Homo sapiens: one gene and its partner. The protein of the gene in region 1 interacts with the protein of each later gene in a biochemical or structural test. Each region holds a gene or a part of one and is shown on either strand. Other genes may lie near its edges.

Evidence for each region. Proteins that work in one complex are often made in the same cells at the same time.
Region 2: the proteins of ASF1A (region 1) and HTATIP2 form a complex in vitro, tested with the Homo sapiens proteins (one study listed by BioGRID).

Annotation. Positions count from the first base shown.
Region 1 is NC_000006.12:118,896,357-118,901,826, forward strand, and holds part of ASF1A (histone chaperone ASF1A), read left to right. Parts: intron 1-4,409; coding exon 4,410-4,525; intron 4,526-5,470. UniProt on the Homo sapiens protein: Histone chaperone that facilitates histone deposition and histone exchange and removal during nucleosome assembly and disassembly.
Region 2 is NC_000011.10:20,373,714-20,377,213, reverse strand, and holds part of HTATIP2 (protein HTATIP2), read right to left. Parts: intron 635-3,500; coding exon 497-634; intron 1-496. UniProt on the Homo sapiens protein: Represses translation by preventing reactivation of elongation factor eEF1A. May also inhibit nuclear import by competing with nuclear import substrates for binding to a subset of nuclear transport receptors.

The sequences.
Region 1 (5,470 bases):
ACCACCAGAAGTTCTTCAAATTACAGGTATTTCTCAAGTGTTGCCTTCCATTTTAGGAGTCAGCTCTGAACAAAGAAGATAGATGACTCAGGATGTCGTTACAGGGCTTTTACATTGCATAGATGAAACCAGCCATTCATAAAGCCAAAACGTTCCATTTTTAACTGGGATCCATTCAGAACCCAGCTGAATCACATCAGGGATTTACAGTACTGGTGTCAAAAACATACTTATTTCCAATGGTATATTTCACTTCCTAGGCACCATTACTGAGCATTTATTTAGTATTTTAAAAAATATTTTAAGCTGAGTCATACTGAAGCTGCAAAGGAATCTTTCAAAAAGGTGCCATGCCTGTATACTCCACCTAGAGGCTATGTGGATTAAGGAAATTTTTACTTAGCAAAGGCTTCTAATAGGTTCCATACTTTTATATTACAGTTCTTTTAAAAATTCTGTTCTTAAAATTAAACTATAGAATTTTTTTTTTTTTAAATGAGACAGTGTTGCTCTGGCACTCAGGCTGGATGGAGTACAGTGGTGCAAACACAGCTGCTCCCTGCAGCCTCAACCTGGGCTTAAGCAATCCTCCCACCTTAGCCTCCTGAATAGCTGGGACCATAGTCGATGTGCCACCACATTGGGCTAATTTTTTAATTTTTTGTAGAGACGGAGTTTTGCCATGTTGCCCAAGCTGGTCTCGAACCCCTGGGCTCAAGCAGTCCTCCCACCCCTGCCTCCCATAGTGTTGTGATTATAGTGAGCCCACTGCACCCAGCCCAAACTATAGAATATTTTGAAAAGAATTTTCTTAATAAGTTATTTTGCCTCAAGTCTCAAAGCAGAGTTTGGCCACCGTTTTTCATACTTTCATCAGTAGCCCCAAACGTTCACTTTCCTTTAAGAGCTGCCCTGTAGCTTTGCTTCAGAAAAAGCCTTGAGGAATATTTGGTCTTAAGATAATTTGGTTCTTTCTAATATAGGGCTTATATCAAGGGTTAAGACAGCCTGAGACCCTGGCTGGATGTGCTTGATGGTCACCAAGACTGTACAAGTTTTGATTGACCATCCTGCCATTCTTAAATTTATATATATATATATCTTAATTACAGCTACTGTCAATTGAATACTTATAATATACCAGAATTGAGCATGGTGCTTCATACTTTCCAACTTCAGCTTGTTCTAATTCCAAAGCCTACATACTTTCCACTAGACCACAGGTCTTCCCAAGTAGTGTAATTAGCTAAAAATTCTCTTGATGACTTCCCTCATTCACTCACTCTTTCACCACAAATGTAAATACTTTCAGGCTGGGTAAATCATTTAATCATGATTACTGTGATTAAATAAAAGTTAACTTTAAAATAAATGAACAAATTTCTTCACCTGAGAACTTATGTAAAACATCTGACCTTACCCTTCCTCCCTCAAATACAGGGGGCAGAGGAATTAAATGAAAGCTGGGTTAAAAAAAAAAACAACAAAAAAACTGATGCCAATGTATAAAAGGGTATTGAGCATGTAAAACTCAGCAACTGTAGCAAGCATCCCATAAACATAAAAATCAATGTACAAGTGTTCCCTGAGTTGCAGCCTGTTCTTGTTAAGGCTAGATTCTCTCTCCATCTCCTCTGCTCTCACTTCCCCTGCAAATAAATTCCCTTATTCCACTGCTAATTTCAGAGCTAGAAAGAATTTATCTTCCCAGTTAGGTTTTCAGAAGAAGCCCGGGGTTTGTAGTTACAGAGGCATAGCTTGGATTCTGATTCTTTGATGTACAAATTATGAATTTGTGTAGATTACTTAACCTCTCAGAGTCTCAAGTTATTTGCATAATGGGGATAATTTGATCTACATGATGAAGCTGTTGAGGTTTAAACAATAGGTATGAAGTAGAACTAATGCCCAGTATATAGTAGGTATTTTCTAAAATAGGTTTATAAATTATGGCTATGTTCCTATGCCAGTCCACAAATGCGAATTTATACCACTTAGGATCAAGGGCATTATATGTAGTGATACAATTATATATGAAATTAAAATTCATGAAAACCTTTATGTAATAATTTTTTTTTTTTTTTTTTGGAGACAATCTCGTTCCATTGCCCAGGCTGGAGTGCAGTGGCGCGATCTCGGCTCACTGCAACCTCCGCCTCCAGGGTTCAGGCGATTCTTGTGCCTCAGCCTCCCGAGTAGCTGGGACCACAGGCATGTGCCACCCCTAATTTTTGTACTTTTAGTAGAGATGGGGTTTCACCATGTTTGCCAGGCTGGTCTCGAACTCCTGACCTCAAGCCATCCAGCCACCTTAGCCTCCCACAATGCTGGGATTACAGGCGTGAGCCACTGCGCCCAGCCACTCTATGTGATAATTCTTAGTCTTATCCTCACTTGGCTAGTTTAGTACCTTTCACATCACTTTCTTAAAACAGTTTCTTCACTTGGCTTTTGGGTCACCTACCTCATTTGCCACTTGTTTTGTAACTTAATTTGTCCTCTTATCTTTGGAGGGCTCAAATCTCACTCCCTAGAGCAAGCCCATGTATTTTTATGGCTTTACATATCATTGACAGGTTCCAAATTTTTATCCTGCCTATTCAGTATCTCTGCTTAGAAGCAGACATCTCAAATATGTCTAAAATGAACTCCTGATTGCTCCCCTACCCCACATCACCTCCCTGCAAAAGTGGCTCCTGCTGCTTTCATCTTCAGGATTTTATCCAGAATATAACTGTTGCACAGCCCCATGGCCACACGAGGTCCATGCCACCATAATTTCTTGCCTCAATTATTGAAATATTGTTTCTTCCCTTGTCCTCTTACACTCTATATTGAACACAGCAATCAAAGCATTCCTTTTAAAATGAAAGTTGGCTCCTGTTACTGCTCTGCTCAAAACCCTTCGATGGCTTCCCATGCCACGCAGTGTGAAAGCCAGAGTCCTTATGATGGCCTTCAAAACCGCATGATCTGGCTGTTCCCCTCATCCTCAATCATAGGGTTTGGTGCTTTCCTCCTTCCTTTCATTCTGCTCCAGCCCTAGCCTCCTTGCTTTTTCTTGCCAAGTGTGCCCTACCCCTGGGCCTTTGTATTTGCTGTTCCCTCTGGCGAGATACTTATATTGCCTACTTCCTCTCTATCTCCATCAACAGATGATCTCAGGAGATGTCAGATGCAGCACCCTGCATCTGGAAGTGTGCTGGAAGCTGGAAATAGAAATGGTTTAGTTCTAGGACAGAGCCATGACATAATAGGTCCTCAGAAAATGATTGCTGACTTAATAAGAGAAAATAAAAAAGGAGCTTTCAGTTGATTGTAGTTTACAATACAATATAAATAAGCAGTACGTTACTATTTCTATTATCAATTTAGGGAACAAAAATATCTACAGTTACACAAAAATGGCCACACATGGTGGCACTAACTAGATTGTCATGAGTGACCCAGAAACTCACCCTTTGGGAGTGCTTGTGTAACAGTGTGTTGAATGCAAGAGGCAGGCCACACAGTGCAAAATACCCAAAGAAGATGAAGAGGTCTCTCAGAGATGGTTTGTATTACAAAGTTATCTTCTTCCTCAGCTAAACAGGAGACTCCTCCAAAGAGTTCTACTCATCTCTGGGTTCACTTCACAGAACACATTGTAAAACATGCTCAGTAAAATCCGCTATATTGAATTACATATAACGCCTTGAATTGCACCTGAATGTCTTTTCCTCCTGCCTATCTCCACTGTGTATACTCTATTGTATCACGTGGTGTAAAGATCTTGGTTTCCTCTGCCCAATTTAAAGAATGTATGACACAGGGGGGTGCCGTAAGGGAAAAACCCTACCATTGTTCGTTGACAGTTGATGAGCTGAAGCCACTTACTTCTGAGCCATGAGGGAGGTTTTACTAATAATTTTTCTACTTTGGAGCTCTGTGATTATTTGGATCTCTGCAGCGTAGTATAGGGCTGCCCTTCCAAAGTGTGTTGAGAAGGGCCTTAAAAGATGATATACAAAAAAAGGGGGATTCCATAGCCAAATAAATTTGGGAAGTGCTGGATTAATGTTACTGGTGTTCTTTACTGAAGGATATCTCAGAAAACTTACTGTGCCAGCATGCTTTATGAATCCTCAAGACAAGGTTTACAGCATTTCCCAAGTGTTTGGCTATGTTATCTTGTTTGTGAGGCACTGTCCAGGAACTAGTGTTTCACAAAAGAGTATTTTGAGAAACTCTGATCAAAGTGTGAACTCTGGTAGGAACTTTATAAGGAGCATTTCACTGCCTTTCTGGATTGCTATGAGAAGCCAATTTTAAAGCCAGTAAGTGGCTAAGTGGACATTAAAAGGGTCTTTGATGTCATCTGGTAATGTAATTACTGAATATGAAATAATGCTTTGGTTTTTTAACCCTAGACTTGGAATGGAAAATTATCTATGTGGGCTCTGCAGAAAGTGAAGAATACGATCAAGTTTTAGACTCTGTTTTAGTGGGTCCTGTTCCCGCAGGAAGGCATATGTTTGTATTTCAGGTAAGATTAATCTTGGTAAATGTGTATGCCAAATATGTTTCGAAGTAGACTATATTATCTATTATCTTATAACCCTTATCCCTTTCCTTTTGGGTTAAAGAACTGCTTCTGCTGCATTCACTTTAAATCTGTTTCCATCATGTTTTAGGCAGTCTCTGTGTCACAGAGGAACTCTTACTTCCTGGTTTTATATGCTGAGAGATGTTAATGTGACGTTTACTTTAGAGAGATGAACAACCTACAGTAAATTTTATACTGTATCATGGCACACAGGGTGGTGAATTTGGGGCTCTTCCTGTGAATAGCACCTCAGTATCAGACTTCCAAGGTGGCTGTCTAGCAACCCAAAACATGGATTCAAAATATCTAAAACTAACTGGCATTGTTAGTAATATGCATCTTCAGTTTATGGTTTCAGCCACTGGAACTGATGGTGATGTAACAAAAACAACTTTATTTCAGCATAATCAGTAGTTGAGCTAGGTTAACAGATACGTTTAGTGGATAGAGATGTGTGGTCTTGGGTCATTGGAATGACATTCCAGAGTTTACTAAAGCATCTTATAATCTACATTATCTTATAAGAGGACTACTTTTGCAAATTTACTACCCCACTAGGTATTTGTGAAGAGAATTTCTAGTAATAAAAATTTTGTTCTTAGATACCACTGAGAGTATTTGGATCTATACCAAGGCTTCAGACATTGTCTTCTATATTCAAAAGTGTTATTTCTTTTAATCCATGTTAAATTGCTATATGGAACCATTCAGTTATTCCTCAATTATGCATGCTTATTTATAAGGGAGATGTTTGTAATAGACCAAAGAGTAACTAGCCATAGGTTTTTTAAAACTACTATTAATTTCTGTTACAAGTATTTCAACCCAGCAATGTCCCATCAGTTAAGTGGAACTCACTGAAAAGACTTAATCCAGAAAGAAAAT
Region 2 (3,500 bases), on another chromosome or scaffold:
TTACTTGGCGGGGCAGAGGCTGCAGCGAGCCAAGATCATGCCACTGCACTCCAGCCTGGGAACCTGTCTCAAAAAAAAAAAAAAGAAAAGAAAGTTGAGTCTGTAACTAGAATACTGCTTCAGGATAGATTTCTCCAAATCTCTACACAAATAAAAGCTCTTCTTTCCGCTCAGTCATTAGGGAGACTGACGGAAAAGTTTAAGAATCACTGCCTCCAAGTCTCTTCCAATGCTAAGCTGCCATGCTGACAGTCAAGGCTGGAGATGCCATATCTCATTCCATTTGTTGCTGGATAATTAATAGAGAGGAAGACATTGGAAATTACCTTTCCAATCATTCCTGTTTACTAAATATATTCCTGCAGTCCCGTAGCCATACAAATGCATAATATGATGCATTTGATGGTTTTTGTATTATATAATATTTTATATTCTTTAGTACTGCCAAATAGCTAGGGTTCTCCAAAGTGTATGAAAAACAGAAACTTGCACAAACCTTAACTTGTAGATATAAAAAATTGCTTGATTTATCAGCTCCTTTAGAGGATAGCAAGTTGAAATGTTTGCACCCTCCAGCTTTTGCCAGCTCTGCAGACTTCAGCACATAATCTCGGTCAACACGAACAAATCCCTCCTAAGGGGGAAAAGGACATGAGTTATTTCCAAAAAGCAGCAAGTTCATCTTAAAGATTACTACTTGGCTTGGGTAGCAGGCTGGGAGGCCTAGAAGGATGGAGATCTAAATAAAATGTGTCCAAGCAATACATGAAAGTCAGGCTTAGACCCTGGGAAAGGCTCCAGGTCTGGTCCTCTGGATAGGCACACCAGCTTTAGCAGCAAGACTGGACTGCAATAAGGAAACAAGGACAATGACATTGAAACACAGACACCAAACAAATCTGCAAAGAACAAAGGGAACAGTAAGATCAGGCTGAGAAACTACTTTTAAGCCAGACTTTTTTTTTTGTCTTAATAACTTCACAACTTTACACTCCTGTTTTCTGTGTCAATTCTAATGTGGTAGGGTCTCCGAGTATGGGTGAGGACACTCCCCAGGCACTAAGAGAACAAAGTCTATTTAATTCCCAATTTTTGTGTATGCTCTACAATGTACCTCACACATTAGTAAAGAATGCATCCTCAAACGTTTTTATTAATGGGTCTCTAGTCAAAAGTGTTTGGAGACACCCAATCTAGATTCAGTCCAGTGAAGGCAGTGGCTGGGTCTTTTTTCTTAATTCATCTCTCAGCATCAGCACATGTCCAGCATATGGTAGATGCTCCAAAAATGAATGAACAAAACGCCAATGAAAGCAGAGAAAAGGTAAATCCAGTCAGAAACAAACAGAACTAAGTGGCAATAAAAGGGGGAGGGAAGAGAATGACACAAATAACAGAATATAGACTCACTTCCAGGGCCTAACTGAAAAGCATGCACCTTTACCCAGAAAAGGGAATTCCAAGGAGTAACAGTCTCTTGAGACCACCATAAATTCTGGCATCTTCAAACCCAAGACAGCTGAAGACAAGTCTAAAGTCTATTGAAGCTGAACTTTATAGGTAGTCACAATTACAGAATGAGGTCTTAGAGTAGTAGGAATTCCAAATCTGAAGACTGGACTACTGCCCCAGTGATTGATTGATTGAGACAGTCTTGCTCTGTTGCCCAGGCTGGAGGGCAGTGGCGTGGTCTCCACTCACCACAACCTCTGCCTCCTGAGTTCAAGTGATTCTCCTGCCTCAGCCTCCCAAGTAGCTGGGATTATAGACACATGTCACCATGTCCGGCTAATTTTTGTATTTTAGTAGAGACAGGGTTTCACCACGTTAGCGAGGCTGGTCTTGAACTCCTGACCTCAGATGACCCGCCCACCTTGGCCTTCCAAAGTGCTGGGATTACAGGTGTGAGCCACCGCGCCCGGCCTGATTTTTTTTTTTAATTAAAAAATTTGCTCCTCAGTAGTTACTGATTCTAAATGTTCTATTTGGTAGGGCGATGTGTATCTTTCACAGAATGTTAGAAGGTACCTTAGGAAATATCACATCCAGTCCCCTCATGATATAGACAGGAACCAAGGTCCAGTGGGCGGGTGAACTGTTAGCTGGGAAGTGGGAGAGCCGAGAGCAGAGTGCAGATTCTGGACTCTGAGCAGTGCTCTTTTCACTGTACCCATGTTCCTTTTTTATCCCCCACCCTCTCTCGCTAATGAAAATGACTAATCCGTGATTGTGGTAGGCAGAATAATGGTCCCTCAAAGATGCCCACGTCCTAATCTTTGTGAATATGTCATGTTACATGACAAGGGGGAATTCCATCACAGATGGTATTTAGGCAGAAGCAAGATGAATCATGCTAAAACAACAACAACAAAAAAACTGAATTTATTTCACCAGTCAACTGTGTCATTTTGTTGTAACAAACACATTATTAAAATCAGAGTTCTAGTGAACTGGCATGAGGGGAAGAAATAGATGTGGAAGGGAAATTCAGTGTTTTAGAAATTCAGTGTTTAGAATTAGGGTGCTAATCAGCTGGCCTTGAAACAGAGAGATTAGTTTGAATTATCCATGTGGGCCCAATGTAATCACAAGGGCCCTTAAAAGTAAAAGAACGAGGCAGAAGAGCAGGCTGGAGTAATGCAACCTAAGAAGGGCTCAGCTACCACATTGCTGGCCTTAAGGATGGTAAGGGGACCACAGGCCAAGGAATGGGGGTGGCCTCTAGAAGCTGAAAAACGTATGGAAATGGTTTCTGTCCTACAGCCTCCCAGAAAGGAATGCAGCTCTGTCAACACCTTGATTTTATCTCAGGTAAACCCGTGTCAGACTTCTAAGATGATAAATTTGTGTTGTCTTAAGCTGCTAAATTTGAGGAATTTATTAAAGCAGCAATAGGAAACTAATACAGAATTCAATTTTAAAACAATACGCCCATGCAGATTTTTTAACTTTGTATGGAAGTGTATCATAAAAGTAAACATAAGTATAGAGCTCAATAAATTTTCATAAACTGAACATGCTCTGCCACCAGTTCCAAGATCAAGAAATAGAACATTACCATTACTGTAAAAGCCTTCCTCATCCTCCTTTCCCATCACTCACAAGTACATTTTTAACTATATCCACCACCTGGAGGACAGTGTTATTTTTCTGCCTTACTTTTTCTACCTTAGTTTGTGGGTAATATAAACTTACCTCTTTACTCACGAGTCATCACCATCTCCTTTTGTATACTTTTTGTTGTATACTTTGACACTCAGTCCTGAACAACGGACTTGCCAAGCTGTCTATATACCGACTCAAATTCATGCAGTTGCTTTTAAAATTAGTGTAAAGCAAACCAATTTAAGTACTCAGCACATCCTGAGAGAAGTGATTACCCTCAGAGCCATTCTCCAAATGGAGACTTTAGATGTGCTGAAAGTGTGCCAAGAGAAACAGCCCAAAACTACATAGAAAAATTCTAAGACACTAAATTTTTCTTCCACATCTGTTTCTTC